Linked DNA regions of Homo sapiens. The main gene of each other region encodes a partner of the protein of the gene in region 2 in a complex. Each region holds a gene or a part of one and is shown on either strand. Other genes may lie near its edges.

Evidence for each region.
Region 1: TAF1A (region 2) and TAF1C share a complex: the UniProt entries of both Homo sapiens proteins name them as parts of the transcription factor SL1/TIF-IB complex.

What each region holds. Positions count from the first base shown.
Region 1 is NC_000016.10:84,177,355-84,184,080, forward strand, and holds the end of TAF1C (TATA box-binding protein-associated factor RNA polymerase I subunit C), read right to left. Parts: intron 6,425-6,726; coding exon 6,343-6,424; intron 6,154-6,342; coding exon 6,056-6,153; intron 5,980-6,055; coding exon 5,890-5,979; intron 5,796-5,889; coding exon 5,722-5,795; intron 5,087-5,721; coding exon 4,848-5,086; intron 4,705-4,847; coding exon 4,588-4,704; coding exon of another isoform or gene 4,510-4,587; coding exon 4,392-4,509; intron 4,310-4,391; coding exon 4,238-4,309; exon of another isoform or gene 4,110-4,237; coding exon 3,974-4,109; intron 3,833-3,973; coding exon 3,689-3,832; intron 3,642-3,688; exon of another isoform or gene 3,514-3,641; intron 2,991-3,513; coding exon 2,816-2,990; intron 2,730-2,815; coding exon 2,592-2,729; intron 2,498-2,591; coding exon 1,587-2,497; 3' UTR 501-1,586; downstream 1-500. Other genes in the region: DNAAF1 (dynein axonemal assembly factor 1), read left to right, coding at 160-252, 375-487. UniProt on the Homo sapiens protein: Component of the transcription factor SL1/TIF-IB complex, which is involved in the assembly of the PIC (pre-initiation complex) during RNA polymerase I-dependent transcription.
Region 2 is NC_000001.11:222,586,925-222,594,895, forward strand, and holds the start of TAF1A (TATA box-binding protein-associated factor RNA polymerase I subunit A), read right to left. Parts: upstream 3,010-7,971; 5' UTR 2,803-3,009; intron 1,642-2,802; 5' UTR 1,640-1,641; coding exon 1,519-1,639; intron 1-1,518. UniProt on the Homo sapiens protein: Component of the transcription factor SL1/TIF-IB complex, which is involved in the assembly of the PIC (pre-initiation complex) during RNA polymerase I-dependent transcription.

The DNA.
Region 1 (6,726 bases), on a different chromosome or scaffold from region 2:
AACCTCTGCCTCCTAGGTTCAAGCAATTCTCCTGCCTCCGCCTCTGAAGTAGCTGGGATTACAGGCACCCGTCAAGGGATTTTCCTGCCTCAGCCTCCCCAGTAGCTGGTATTATAGGGGCCTGCCACCACGCCCAGCTAATCTTTGTATTTTTAGTAGAGATGGGGTTTCACCATGTTGACCAGGCTGGTCTCGAACTCCTGACCTCAGGTGATCTGTTTGCCTCGGCCTCCCAAAGTGCTGGGATTACAGGTATGAGCCACCACGCCCAGTTGAGGACACTGAATTTGGCCTGGACTGAACCCCAAGGCTGCCCCCCTGTCCTTGCAGTCACAGTGACAGGGAGAAAGCACAGGTCACCCTTCCTTCCACAGTGCCGACTGAGAGCGCCGCCACACCCCCAGAGACGTGTGTCGGAGTTGCCCAGCCCAGCCAAGCTCTGCCCACGTGGGACCTCACTGCATTCCCAGCACCGAAAGCATCATAGTTTTCCCCAGTTATATGTAGCATAAATGGTTTAATCATAAATGTCTCCCTTAGGCATGATAAACATTTTAACACCCACGCGAGTCAGTGTATGATTGGGCTAGCTCCTGTTTGTGTGAGTCACATGCAATTCCTTTCACCAGCCAACCTGAAAAAAGACCTTTCTCTTACTATGTCATCAGAAACCAGACAGACCCGGGTCCCTGCAAAATCTCAAGTGAGCATTTTCCCCACAGGAAAACAGAATCTTCCACTGCAGCTAGAGAAACTCCGAGGAAGAGGGACTTGATGCTTTAGACATCAAAATGAGAAGGGGAGGGAGGAAAGAAAGGGGGGAGTCTGTGAGGCACAACAGAGAATTCCCCCAAACTGACATGACCGTGACCCTCTGCTCAGAGGGCACTATCGACAGCCCACAGGTGCCAGACCCATGTCCCAAGGGAGAAGGAACATCAGCCATCATCTCTCTGCATGAGCTCAGTGTCAGGTAGTAGCTGTGGCGGGACGCTGTCCAGCCTAAAAAACGTGACCATTCCAATTCATCTTCAGCTGCCAAGTGTATTTAGTCCCTGAACCTGGATCCAAGGCATCTCCCTGTAGGAAACATCAGACCGGGGCAGAGATTGACAAAGCAACCCACAACAGCAGCTGCCAACGGCCGCTGTGCCCACCTCATCAGCAGCTCTGCAGGGGCCTCACTCCACCCTCACCAAACACGAGGAGCCAGCACTCCTGGCCCCCATTCCACTGGACAGGAAGGCGTGAGAACTGAGGGACCTGCCTGAGGCCCCCACAGCTGAGGCGCAGCGGAGCCCTGCCTCCCAGCACAGACTAAAATCCCAGCAACACAGGCCCACCGGCACCTCCAGCCTGCCTTGCGGGATGATCTTCAGGCGAATATACAAAATACAAAAGAAACTACTACTGTATTTTGTTGCCCTGTCCCTTCAACTTGGCTCCAAATTGCTTGGCTCATCATCACAGTGGCCTCCAGAAGGTGGCGAGCTCTGCTTCTCAAGTTTCAACTGTGGAAGGCACATCTGGTCCCAGAGGAAGGATGAGGGGCTCTCTGGGGCTTGAGGGCAGCCCACCTTGTGTCCTCAGAAGCCCATTCGAGGCTTCTTCCGGAGGGGCTGAGAGCTAGAGAGGACGGGTGTGTGCTGCTGGGAGCGAGTGGCCCGGACGCTGGAGGCCTGGGAGTGGGGAGGTGTGGTGGCACAGCCTGGGGTGTCCCTCTGGGGTGGTAGCTTGGCCATGTAGTCACGGAGCATCTGCCGCTGCTCTGATGGGACGCCCTGGGCGCATGCATCCGGAGTCAACTCCTGGGAGGGCGGGGTCGTGGGGGGCAGGGGCAGAGCATCAGCAGGTGGCCACTCAGGGCTATGAGGGGAGCTGGTGTCCTCTGAGGGATCCACATGGCCACTGAGCGAAAAGCTGCTGGACAGCTGGGTCCGGCGCTTGGGCCGCCTGGTCTGTCTCCCGGGCTCCGAGGTCCTGCCCTGCTGCCTCTCCCACCAGGCAGCCCCTCGGCCTGCCCAGGCTTCCCCCAGGCGCTCACTGAGCTTGTCCTCTAGGCCTGACTCGGGTGCAGGGGGTGGCTCTGCCGCAGGGAGGGAGCCCAGGTCTCTCTGCAGCAGGAGCTGCCCTCGGGCCATGGCCTTGCGGAGCACACCCAGCCGCTGCCCTTCCTCTTCCTCCCTCCGCAGCTCTGTGCTGCCCAGCATCTGGCGGTGGGTGAAGGTGGGTGCTGTCCACACAGGAGGAGCCAGGGGCACTTTTAGCAGGGCCTTCAGCCACTGGCTGCAGCCGGCAGTGTCCTGGGAGGTCCAGGAAGCTGTGGGGGCATGGCAGTCAGGTTGGGTGTCGCCAGGAGGCCCAGCATCTCTGCGGAGGCTGGAGTCCACCTGGGGGCGGAGCTGCTGGTAGAAGACATCTCCCGCCGCCGAGAGCTGGAAGAGCACCAGGCCTGGTGTGGGCGCTGAGGGCAAGGGCGGGACGACGGCAGCCAGACCTGGTGACGGGAATGACAATGACCTCCAGGGCCTAGCGGGGGGAGGGGATGTTTTCCACTGCGCCCCCCAAGCTCACTCCCCCACCCAGCACACCTATGGTCGGTGCTTTCAGGCGCTCCTGCAGCCGCCACTGGATCTTAGGCTCCAGCAGAGGAAATGCAGGGAGGGAGTCGATCCTGGAAGGAAGAGACTGGGGGGGGCCTGCCAGGCGGGGCACCGACGCCCCTTCTCCTGAGGAAGGACAGACAGCTGAGGCCCTGTCCAGGCCCCGACCGCCCCATCTCCCACACGCCGCCCACCCTGGCCTGGACCCTCACCTGCCAGGTGCAGCAGCTGCAGCTGCCCACCCTGGCCTCCGAGGAGCAGGGGCTGCACGCAGCTGGGCCGGGGCGGAGGCAGCAGTCGGGCCAGCAGGAGCGGGGAGGGGAGGCCATGGTTCCACTTCAGCATCGGCACCAGGGGAAGGCGCTCGTCCACTAGGTAGAGAGAGAACTGGGGCCCGAGAAGGAAGGGGGATGTGGCCGAACTTGGGAGCTGAGCTGTGTAGTGGCCCTCCAGGCCCCATGTGGCTCTCCAGGTGAGTGCAGAGCCCTGAGGGGCAGCAGCATCTCCCATCAGCCTCCACGTGCCTCTCAGACTTCACCTGCCAGCCCTGAACAGGTGCCGCTTCCTTCACCAATTCTGACCGACAGTCCGGTGGACAGACAGAACAAGTGGGAAAGGGGTGCTCAGAAGAGGTGTGGGGGAGCCTTGCCAGCAGAAACCTGCCTGGCCTTCTCGCAGCCACCCCCACTCTCCTGACCCGGGAGCCTGTGCTCGAGGCACGCCTACGAATGTCCCCGGGAGGGCGGGTGGAGGACAGACCTGCTTCCTCAGAGCCCCCGCCTCCTGCACAGCAGAAACTCTCCAGCTCTGCACGGAAGCCCCACCCCGAGGCCCCTCCTCCCCTGCTCCACCCCTGGCTGCACCTCGAAGCTCTACTAAGGGGAGGCCCTGGGAGAGCTTCCCCACCTGCCTGTTAGCACCGACTGTGGGATCCACTGCGTGTTTGGGCCACAGATTCATCCAGGGTTGAGTTTGGTTTGCTGGGTGGTTGTCTGGGCCCAGCAGAGCCGCTGGTAAGCAGCAGCCTCTAGTGACCATCTGAGACAGAGCAGAGGTGGGGCGGGGCGGTGTTGTGTGCCACTCACCTGGGTACAGACGAGATGAAGAGTAGGGGGGAGGCATTTGGGGCTGGAGTGCCCCAGGTACTGGGTAAGCAGGACACGTTCCCCTTTCTGGCACGAAGCCTCTGCCCCCAAACGAAAAAGCAACAGACCACAGCCCGGCGGGCCCTGGAAGATAAACACAGGGTCAGCCCTCCCCACAGTCCCAGGCCGGTGACGCTGTCCTCGCCCAGGCCGCAGCCAGCCTGGGACTCACCGCTCTGCGGCCGCTCCCGCAGTCGGGGTGGGTCCTCTGCCGCCAGCCCGTACCTGAGTGTCCAGCATCTTCACTCCGGTGCGGTCACCCACGGTCAGCACCCGAGGGTGCGCAGTGAAGTCTGCCCAACGCCACGAAGAGGAGTCCCGGAACACGAGGGTCTCAGGGTCCCTGTAGATTTGCCGCAGCCTTGGGGAGACAGGCAAGCCGTGGGCAGGGGGACAGGCTGATGGGGAAGGGGCTCAAGGGTCGCGACATGCTCAACAGGGCGGAGTTCAGTTCGTTAGGGTGGGGGGTTTCACAGGAAGCGGCGATACCCATCCTCAGGGCTCCACAGGCAGACGGCTCCCGAGCGGCTGCAGATGGCCAGCTCCCCGGGCAGGTGAGGGCTACAGGGCAGGAATGCATTCACATCGGGCTGCTCAGCCCTGCCTCCAGCCCCTCCTCACCGACCAACCTGACCCCCCTCACCTGAGGCTGATCCCCGTGGCCCCTTTCTCCACCTGCATTGCCTGCAGAAGGGTTGGCTGCCACTGTTTACCAAACTTCCACACGGCACAGTGGTAGTCAGAGCGGACGGCCAGCAGAGCTGAGGAGGGATGGAAAGGGCCAGGGGTCAGGTAGCAGGTCAGCCAGTGAGGGAGGAAAGTGTATATAAGGGCCTTACTTTCTCCCTGGACGGTGCATGTCACCACTTGCCGGACAGGTCCCTGGAGCTGGATGCGTCCAGGTTTCCCAAGGAATTGGGGATTGTCACCTGGGGTCAGAACGACCTCTTGGAAATCTGGGCCTCTCACTAAGGATCAGTGCACGAGCTATGATCACTGCAAGCCCCCCAAATTCCTGCCCTTCTCTGGACCATGCCAAGAGCACCTCCTCTACCAGAGGCGAGCCCGCTGGAATCTCCTGTCTCGCAAGAAAGGATACGCAGCCTGTCCTGGGCGCCTCCAGCAGGGTAGACCAGCTGCCCGAACTGGGGTGTCCTTCCAGGAACCCAGGCCAGCGCGCCCCCAGTGCAGGCCTCATCCAGAAGCAGCTGCTCCCACCGCAGCACCAGCTCCTCGTGCAGCAGCTCTGCCAAGTGGCTCGCCACCGACGTGCCCAGGATGGGGCCCCCGAGGATAGAGAAGCGGCGCTGTCGGTTGCTGAGGTAAGCCCAGGGACACCTGGGGACCAGAGAACAGCAGGAGGATCACTCGGTGGCACTCAGGGGAGGACAGGTCCCATCCCAAGGAGGCCAAGTGCAGTGGACACATTTCTTATTTACCTAGAATTTCTTCCTTTGGGAGACCACCCCATCCTGTTCCCATGCCCCGGAAGCAATCATGTGACCCAGACCTGGCCACCAACAATATTCCATTGCCCTTGCCACAGTGACTGGTTCACAGATGGGTGTGAGACCCAAGCCAAGCCAACCAAAGTCCTTTCTGGGACTTCTGGTGCCGCAGGAAGGACACTGGCTCTTTCCTTAGATCATAAGCCATCTTGCTGCTACCTAGAGACAGCCTGTCTAGGGAACTGTGCAGGGAGAGGCAAGTGGACGAGACAGGAAAGAGAGACACAGCTCTATGAACATTATTTGAACACCTGGATGCAGCTGTGCCTGAACTCCACAAATGTAAATCTGCTTTCCCCTGAGATGATTTGGAGTTGGAAGTCTGGTATAAGAAAGTACAGCTCAGACTGCATGGAGCAGGGGGGAAGTGGGTATGACGGAAAGCTGTACGTGCGTCCTAGCACCTCCTACATCCCCACCACCAGCTATGCCTATCCATCTCCTCCTTTCTCATCAGCCACTTGCCCCCAGGGCTGGTGTCCACCGAGGTCCTGGAGCAGCTTCTTCACACTGACCACTGTCTTCTTCTTAGTGCGGCTCTGCATGGAAAGGCCTTGTCAGGCTCACACACCCTCGAGTTCACCCCTGAAGGACAGCAGGGAGTCCCCACCCCTGGAGTCACGGGCCACTCACCCCCGCTCCCTCCAGCTTGAAATTCTCCAGCATCAGCTTCCCCAGGGGCGCAAAGGCTACGTCTCCATGATCCAAGAGGAACCGGCTGATCTGGGGAGAAGAGGAGGCCAGGTCACTAAGCACAGTCTCCAGGCTACGCAGCACTGTCCCCCGTGGGCCCACTCACCTGCTCAGTCACATCCAGCACGACTCGGGGCCGCTTCCGATACCGGCACCCTCCGCGGAAAAGCAGGTCCCGGGCAGTCAGGCCAGGGTCCCAGGGATCTGAGAAGGAGGTTACGGAAAGGGCTGGGGAGGGCACAGGAGTGCGGCCAGATGCCCTGGGCGACTGGAGGTATCCAAGGGTCCTGAGCAGGCACAGGCTTAGCAGGGAGAGGAAGGTCTCAGGAGCGGGAGCAGTGGGAAGAATAGGTGGAGCAGTGTGGAGTGAGCCCGGGGGAATGAGACCCTTACCGATGAGGGGAGGCAGCATGGGGAGAGGCCCAGGGGTTGCCGGCTCCCACAGCAGGTCCTTGGTCACATGCAGTGCCCCATTCTGAAGGGAGGACAATCGCAAGGACAGTATCATGATGAATGCCCTCCCTGGGCCAGGCTGTGCACAGGCATTCATCTCTTATCAACTCATCCAATCCTCACAACAATCCTGCGAAGCTGGGATGACTGGCATTGTCATTTTACTGCTGAAGAAACTGAGGCACACTGCCATTTGCCCCAGAAGACAGAGCCGGTAAAGAGAAGAGCTGGGATGTGAACCCAGGCAGCCTGACCCCAGAGCTCCTGTTTCCGACCTCCACCTGTGCTGGCTCTCAAAGAAGGAAGCCCCTCATGCCACCAGTG
Region 2 (7,971 bases):
ACAGGCTATCCATGACATATAAAATATTCCTAAGCATGTAAATTTTGGTCTTTGGTCTTAAACCTATCTGCTTGCAGACTGACTCAGACTTTCTATAGAACACTGGTAACAGAAACATACCCAAGTATGACTTAACTATAGGAAATTTAAATTACTAGTTTGTTCCCTACCAGGGATGCGGTAGCACTACCTCTGAAGTATCATTCATTCAAATCTGCCTTAAGCCATGTGCATTAATCTAGCAAAAATAAAATGAGGAGAGGAAAGGCACTATTATTTTTCAACACTCATTATGCATGAGATACTATGCTAGGTACTTTACATATATTGTCTCATTTTTAAAAATGCATCTCAGTCGTTAAAAGTGTAAGCTTTGAGATCAGACAAACCTGGATTTGACTCCTGATACCACTTAAGAGTTTAATGTCTTTGAGATTCAGTTTCATCCTACCTAAACTGCCTAGCATAAAAATTTATTGAGAATTTACTGAGATCATTAAATGGGATGATACTTAGATCAAAAGAAAAAAATGGAAGCGAAATTTTAGGAGCCAAGGAATCTCTGTCAAGGGGAGAAAAGGCTGGGCAAAAAAACACATATTTAAGGGCAGTAAGTAAAATGCTGGTTCAAATGTAATCCCAGGACTATACCACTCAATATGCCAGCATACAGATAATAGCTTCTTTTATTTATACTTATATTAAATATATTCTTATAGGGAATTTATCCCATAGAAAAACATACTTGCATTTATATTAGATAAAAATGGGGGAAATTTTATCCCATAGAAAATCATGCTTGCATTTACATTAGATAAAAATGGGGGAAAATGCTCTTTTATCTAGGCCGGGTGCAGTGGCTCATGCCTGTAATCCCACCACTTTGGGAGGCTGAGGTGGGCAGGTCACTTGAGGTCAAGAGTTCAAGAACAGCCTGCCCAACATGGTGAAACCCTGTCTCTATTAAAAATACAAAAACTAGCCAGGCGTGGTGGCTGGTACCTGTAATCTCAGTTACTCGGGAGGCTGAGTAGAATCACTTGAACCTGGGAGACAGAGGTTGCAGTGAGCCAAGATCTAGCCACTGCACTCCAGCGTGGGCAACAGAGCAAGACTCTGTCTCAAAAAAAAAAAAAATCTATTACACGATCAATTCTATTCGAAATAATTTCAATGCAATTCAACAGCAACTTCTTGAACACTTCCTAGGCATGTTTTCCTCAATGGCAGAGACCATATCTTCACCTATGACTCCCCAATATTTAATCAATGCCAGAGATAAAAGTGCTCAGTAAGTATTACTGGAAAAAATGTGTATCTAGCATAATACAGACTATCTATTATTAATCCAAGGGCAAAGAATTCTAAAAGAAAAAAGATTTCTTTTGGCTTTTAGCCAAAAAACCCTCCACATATTCCTCTTGAAAATTAAACCAGTCTGGTTATTCATTTTGTATCCCTATTGAATCTTACCACCTCCTTAAAGTTAAAATGGCTCAATGTTATTATTTTACTTACCCACAGTTTCTACGTATGTTTGAAGCCAAGGAAAATGCATTCCTGCACCACTGAGCACAGATGTTTCCACTTCTTCATCATCTGTCACAGGCCCTTTTAATTCTTCACTGAAATCACTCATACCTATTACAAGATGAGATATCAGTTACTTTCTGTACATCTTAATCCACAGTCTTCTGAGTTGTACAGAAAAACGGCTATCTTTTTATCTAATAAATATAATTTGATTAGCAAAATGCATTATACCTGTCAGCTCTTTTAAAGTAAAAAATGAATTTAACTATGTCAGCAACAGCCAAAATGAATGATCCATTAAAGACCGAACCACTAATGTTTCAAGTCCATGTAAAGATAAATAAGATACTGCCCCTCTAATTTAAAAAATCTCAAGTCTAGACGAAGAAACAGCAAAACGTATAATAACAAAACAATATGAAAAGTACAGTAAGAATAGAAGTAGCAGCTAATATTTATTAGGCCCTTACTATGCACTAGAAGTATAAATTATCTAATTTAATCCCCACAGCAATCCTGAGGTGGGTACTATTACTTTCTTCCATGTGAAGGTTGAAAAAACTGAGGGGCTTAGTGAAATGATGGAACCTGCCTAACATCACAAAAAATGGTGAGGACGATAGTCTAGGAAATAGAACACCAAACTACTTGGCATGACTAGAATTCGAGGTGCGTGTGGAGGAGGGGTGCGGAAGGTGAGAAACGAACCTAGAAAAATCATCATAAGCCAAGGTGAGTTTAGACTTACTCCTAAAGATGCTCAGGGCCCCTTCCTCATTACCCATATGAAATCGAGTATTAGTGCCCCTGATACTACCTCCAAATTTCCCCTATTTCCCCTCTTCAATCCTACAGCACTACTCTAGTTCAAGACCCCTTCAAACAGTGCCTAGATTACCGCATCAGCTTTCTAAACAATTACCCTGGCTCAGATTTTGCATCTCTGCATTATACCCAGAGTAAACCTTCTAAATTCAAAGCATGTGGCTAGGAGTATGAATTATAAGTAACAACTGAATTTGAATCCGACCCATCACGTGTTTTCAGGAGTAGTTACACAAATCCTCCCTTTCCAAATCCTCAAAAACCCAAATTGGTGACCCGCAGTTGCCACGGCAACCAAAGCTTCTCTATCCCCTTCTTTCGTTTTCAGACCCCAAGGGTTTCAGGTATTAGGAGGAAATATCAGGAGAACATGGATGAATCCTGACACACCCCTTCCCGTTCCATTTAAACGCAGGAACCACGGGCGATATCTGCGGCACTTACCCGCCTAAATTTAGAGCTCCTCAGTAAAGCTAAACTCAGTCTCCGACTCCGGCCCACGTGAAGAAATTCCCACCGGAAGACGAGTTAGGAGAGCTTTATATGAGCAGGCGCTAAACCTGGTTTAGGTATTTAGGCAGCGCGCGGCCCGGCTCGTAACTCCTCCTGCTGCAGCAGGCGTATCGTTGGCCTCGCCTCGACCCCGGAAGTGACTTCTGGAAGTGACCCAGGAAGTGACAGTGAGCTGCCTCTCTGCGATTGGTTTTGCCCGAGTTTTATTTTTGTCTGTCTCAGCTAGAAAGTGGGAGACTTTCATTTAAAATGGAAATTGGGGCGAGGGGTTGGCGGCTGGGCGAAGGGAGCATTCAAAAGCGGAGAATGTCACTTTACCCGAGAAATTCACTACGATGGGCCATTGGTTTCTGCTCGGCTCGCAGGCGCACTGCACGAGTGGAGGTGTGGCTAGTGGCTGTGATGAGATAAATCCATGCATAGCCTTTTCATTGCGAGCTTGAAAGTTCTTTTCTATTACAGTTTTAGCTTTAGGTTTAATTGGTTCGACTGCCTTCTCCACAATTTGGGCGAGAATTTCCTTTGCCTTCTCAGCAAAAGTTGTTCTGCGGACCCGTCTGGGTCAACTTTCATGAGGGACATTGAGACAAACAAATGAAATATGGGTTAAAGGTAAGATGGTTAAACCGTGTGAAATGAGAGACAGTTGAGGGGTTCTAGGGAAGATGATCCCGGAAAAGGACTGCAGGCCCATGGAAACGCAGTGTGCTTCTCCAATATTTGGAGGGCTGATCAGTGAAAGAAGGATCAGACCCTTTTTCTTAGCAGCAGAGAACAGAACTAGGACTAATAAGTGAAAGGTAAAGGGAGGCTGCTTTCAAGTCACAGCAAGAAAGAATTTTGTCCACAAATGAGGATGCACAAATATAGCATAGGCTCCCCCAGGAATCACTGAGTTTCCTCTGTGTAGGTGAACAGTTTGAGTAGAATCGGAGTATCGGAGAGGAAATTAAAGGGTCTGGTAAGAGTTTGAGGCCGGGCGCGGTGGCTCATGCCTGTAATCCCAGCCCTTTGGGAGGCCGAGGCAGGCGGAAAGTTTGAGCTCAGGAGTTCGAAACCAGCCTAGTCAACATGATGAAACCCCGTCCCTACAAAATAAAAATAAAAAAAAATAAGCTGGGGTGATGATGCATGCCTCTAGTCCCAGCTACTCGGGAGGATGAGGTGGGAGGATCACCTGAGCCCAGGGAGGTCGAGGCTGCAGTGAGCTGTGATCACCCTACTGCACTCCAGCCTGGGCGACAGAATGAGACCCTGTCAAAAAAAATTTTGTACATGGATTCCTTAAAATGCTACAAATAGTTGATTCTATGTTGTCTTCTGCATAAAACAATATGCAGTAGTTAAGGACTTGCAAGAAAAGTTCCTTCTGCTGCTCTCTCTGTCATTAGTTCTTGAGTCCTCACTCAAGCTTGTGCTCTAACTCTACAGGCAGGGCTAACATAAATTATGCGTAGTCCAGGAGACCACACACAAAATAACATACATAATCATTACTTTCTTGTCTAGAGGCTTAGTCTGGCTACTTTTCTCCCATTGGCTTGAGGTGTAAATTCACCAAAACCAGCCCAGAAATGATTTTACATGGAAAAAAGTTTATGTTCTCCCGAAAATGAGGAAGAGCTTTCAGATTTTCCTCGAAGTTCTCAAACAGCTCTAAGGAGCAGTAGGAAACGTGCCCTACCTATGCTTTTTCTTTCCCATGCTGCAATTCTGACAGAAAATGTGTTGGAGAGAAGAGATAAAAAAAATCAACTAGATCACATCCAATAGCATAAACAAGAAGGAAGGAGGGAAGGTTGCCGTGGCAGGCATCTGTAGTCCCAGCTACTCCAGAGGCTGAGGCAGGAAGATCGCTGAGCTCAAAAGTTCAATTCCATCCTGGGCAACATAGCAAGACCATGTCTCAAAAAAAAAAAAAAAAAAGGCATGACAAATATGAAAACATAAAGCATGCAAAGACTTTTCTAGATTTCAATCTATAAGAAAACATGTCCTAAGAAAAACATGTTCTTACAATTACTTTGTGCTACAGAGCAACTTAATATGGTGATGAATTATGTTGTTTTTAAAGTTGCAAACTGTCATTTAAGGAATATTATTTCCATGAACGCTTCCTGTGCAATCTATTAAAGAACAAACTTCACATAGCCAAACAGTTGAAGAGACCTCATCATAAATAGACTATCCTATATCACAGCTAACGAGAATAAAAAAGGAATGTGGCATGAAAGCATAAAAATAAAAACATCTCAGATAATAATATAGAGAAAACCAAAATACATGGGCTAGAATTCCACCCCAGGGACTGTATCCTCAAAGACACAGGTTTTTCTTCCTTTTTCTTTTTTTTTTCTTTTCATGTTTCAGTACTCTGAGCAGCTACAAAAAGAAGACCAGTCTATCCTGCTGGAGACAGTGGCCACGTGAAGAAAGAGCTCTTGCAGTATGAAAGACCACATGGAAAGAGAGGCCACATGGAACCAACAGTCAGCATCTTGGTTTCGGACACGTGAAGAAATTCATCTCAGACTGTGTATCCTAAATCAGGCACTTGCTGAATCTAACTACATGAGTGAGACCAGTTGACAACACATGGAGCAGACATGAGCTGTTCTCAGTGAGTCCTACACAAATTCCTGACTCACAACACTGTGAGCAATAAAATGGTTGTTATTTTAAGCCACTGAAGTTTGCAGTGATTTCTTACATAGGAATAGATAAATGAAACACAAACATTGATCATTTGCATCTTCTATCTTTTTTATGACTAGTCTTATTGGAAATTACCAGTTTATTTCTGCCATGGTTAGAAAACAAACTCTGAAATTTTGATACTTTAAAATTTTTTTGAGACTTACTGTGCCCAGAATATAGTCTATCTTGGTGAATGTTCTGTGAGCACTAGACAAGAATATGTATTCTGTAGTTATTGAGCATTGTGTCCATCAATGTCAACGTGATTAAGGTGGTTAATAGTTGTCTTCAGATCTTCTATATTGTATTGATTGTTTTATGTGTAGTGTTGCTATTAATTATTGATACAGGAGTGTAAAACTTAAACTATGGCTGTGAATTTGCCACTTACTTTAGTTTTGTCAGCTTTTCTTTTGCATTTTTGAAGCTCTGTTATTGGGCATATAAACATTTATGGTTCGTGTGTCTTCCTGATGAATTGACCATTTTATCATTATGAAATGTCTTTATTGCTGATAATACTCCTTATCTTGAAGTCTAATTCATCCGATATTAGTATAGCCACTGCAGCCTTCCTAGCTTACTGTTTACTGGTATATTTTTATCCATGTTTTTACTTTCAACCTGTGTTTTTTAATTTAATGTGCTTCTCTTATAGACAACAGATAGTTGAGTTTGTCTATCATTTTGCTATTTGTTTTCGATTTGTCCCATTCAGTTTTGTGTTCCTTTGTTCTTTACTTCCTGCTTTCTTTTGGGTTAATTAATGTTTTTATATTTCATCTTAATTCCTCTGTTGGCTTTAACTGTATCTTTTTGCATTATTGCTTTACAGTGTTTCTGAGAATTATGATATACATTCTTAACTTATCACAGCCTTAGAGTTAAAATTATGATACTTCATGTAAAATAAAAGAGCCTTGCAATAGTAAAGTTCTACTTACCACCTCCCCAAGTCCTTTGTGCTTTGTTGTCATATATATCATATCTATGCACATTGTTATTTTTGCCTTAGTCATATGTATCGCAAAGAAATTAAGAGAAGAAAAGTATATATTACCTTTTGTGTATTTACCTACATTTTGCTATTTCCAGTTCTTTTCATTCCTTCCTGTTTGTGGTGAATTATCTTTAAGAATAGCTGTCAAAAAGTATTCACATTCTTGTATGTGCATGTTGCTTCTCCCTTTAAGAAATAGAATCAGCTGGGCATGGTGGCTCACGTCTGTAATCCCAGCAATTTGGGAGGTCAAGGCAGGTGGATCACAAGGTCAGGAGTTCAAGACCAACCTGAACAACATGGTGAAACCCTGTCTCTACTGAAAATACAAAAAAAAAAAAAAAAAAAAAATTTAGCTGGGCGTGGTGGCACATACCTGTAATCCCAGCTACTCAGGAGGCTGAGGCAGGAGAATCACTTGAACTTGAGAAGCGGAGGTTGCAGGGAGCCAAGATTGCACCATTGCACTCCAGCCTGGGTGACAGAGCGAGACTCTGTCTCAAAAAAAAAAAAAAGAAATAAGAAATAAAGTCTGTGTTCCCACCCCTTGAATCTGGGCTGGTCTTTTAACTTTGATGAACAAAACATGGTGAAAATGATGTCATACCAATTCTAGGCCTAGCCCCTAAGAAGCCATACACCTTTACTTTTATCCTCTAGAAAGCTGGCCAACAAATAAGTAAGTTTAGGGTAGATTACTAAAGAATGAAAAACATTTCAGCCAACCATCCCAACCATTTCAGCCACACAGCTGAACTACCAGACATGTGAATGAAGCTAGTTTGGAAGTTCCAGCCCTGGCTAAGCATCCAGCTGAATGCAGCCACCTGAGTGACCCCAGCCAATAATATCCAGAGCAGGAGAATCATCCAGGTAAGCAAAGCTATAGAATAGGTAGAAATAATAAATAATTATTATTTTAAATTACTAAATATATTACATCAAAAGAATAACTAAAACATTACAGATTTCAGTTTCCATCTGGTATGTCATCGTCTTTCATCCTGAAGAATTTTTTTTAGCATTGCTTACAGTGGAGGTCTATTGGTGTAGAATTTTCTGTTTTTATTTATCTGAAAATGTCTATTCTGCCTTCAGTTTTGAAGGATTCTTTAGATATAGGATTCTGGATTGGCAGTTTTTGTCCATCAGCACTTTAAGCCCTCTGATGATGTTAACTTCTTCTTTTTGATGAGAAGTCAGCTATCACTTTATTATTTTTGTCCATGTGTAATGTATTATGTTTCTCGGACTGCCTGCAAAACTTTTCTTTCCCAATACTTGGTTATTTGCAGTTTGACCATAATGTGTCTAGGTGTGATTTTCTCTGTAATTAGACTATTTGGCATTCACTGAGTTTCCTAGATTTGTCCATTTCTTTTATGATAATTTGAGATATTTTC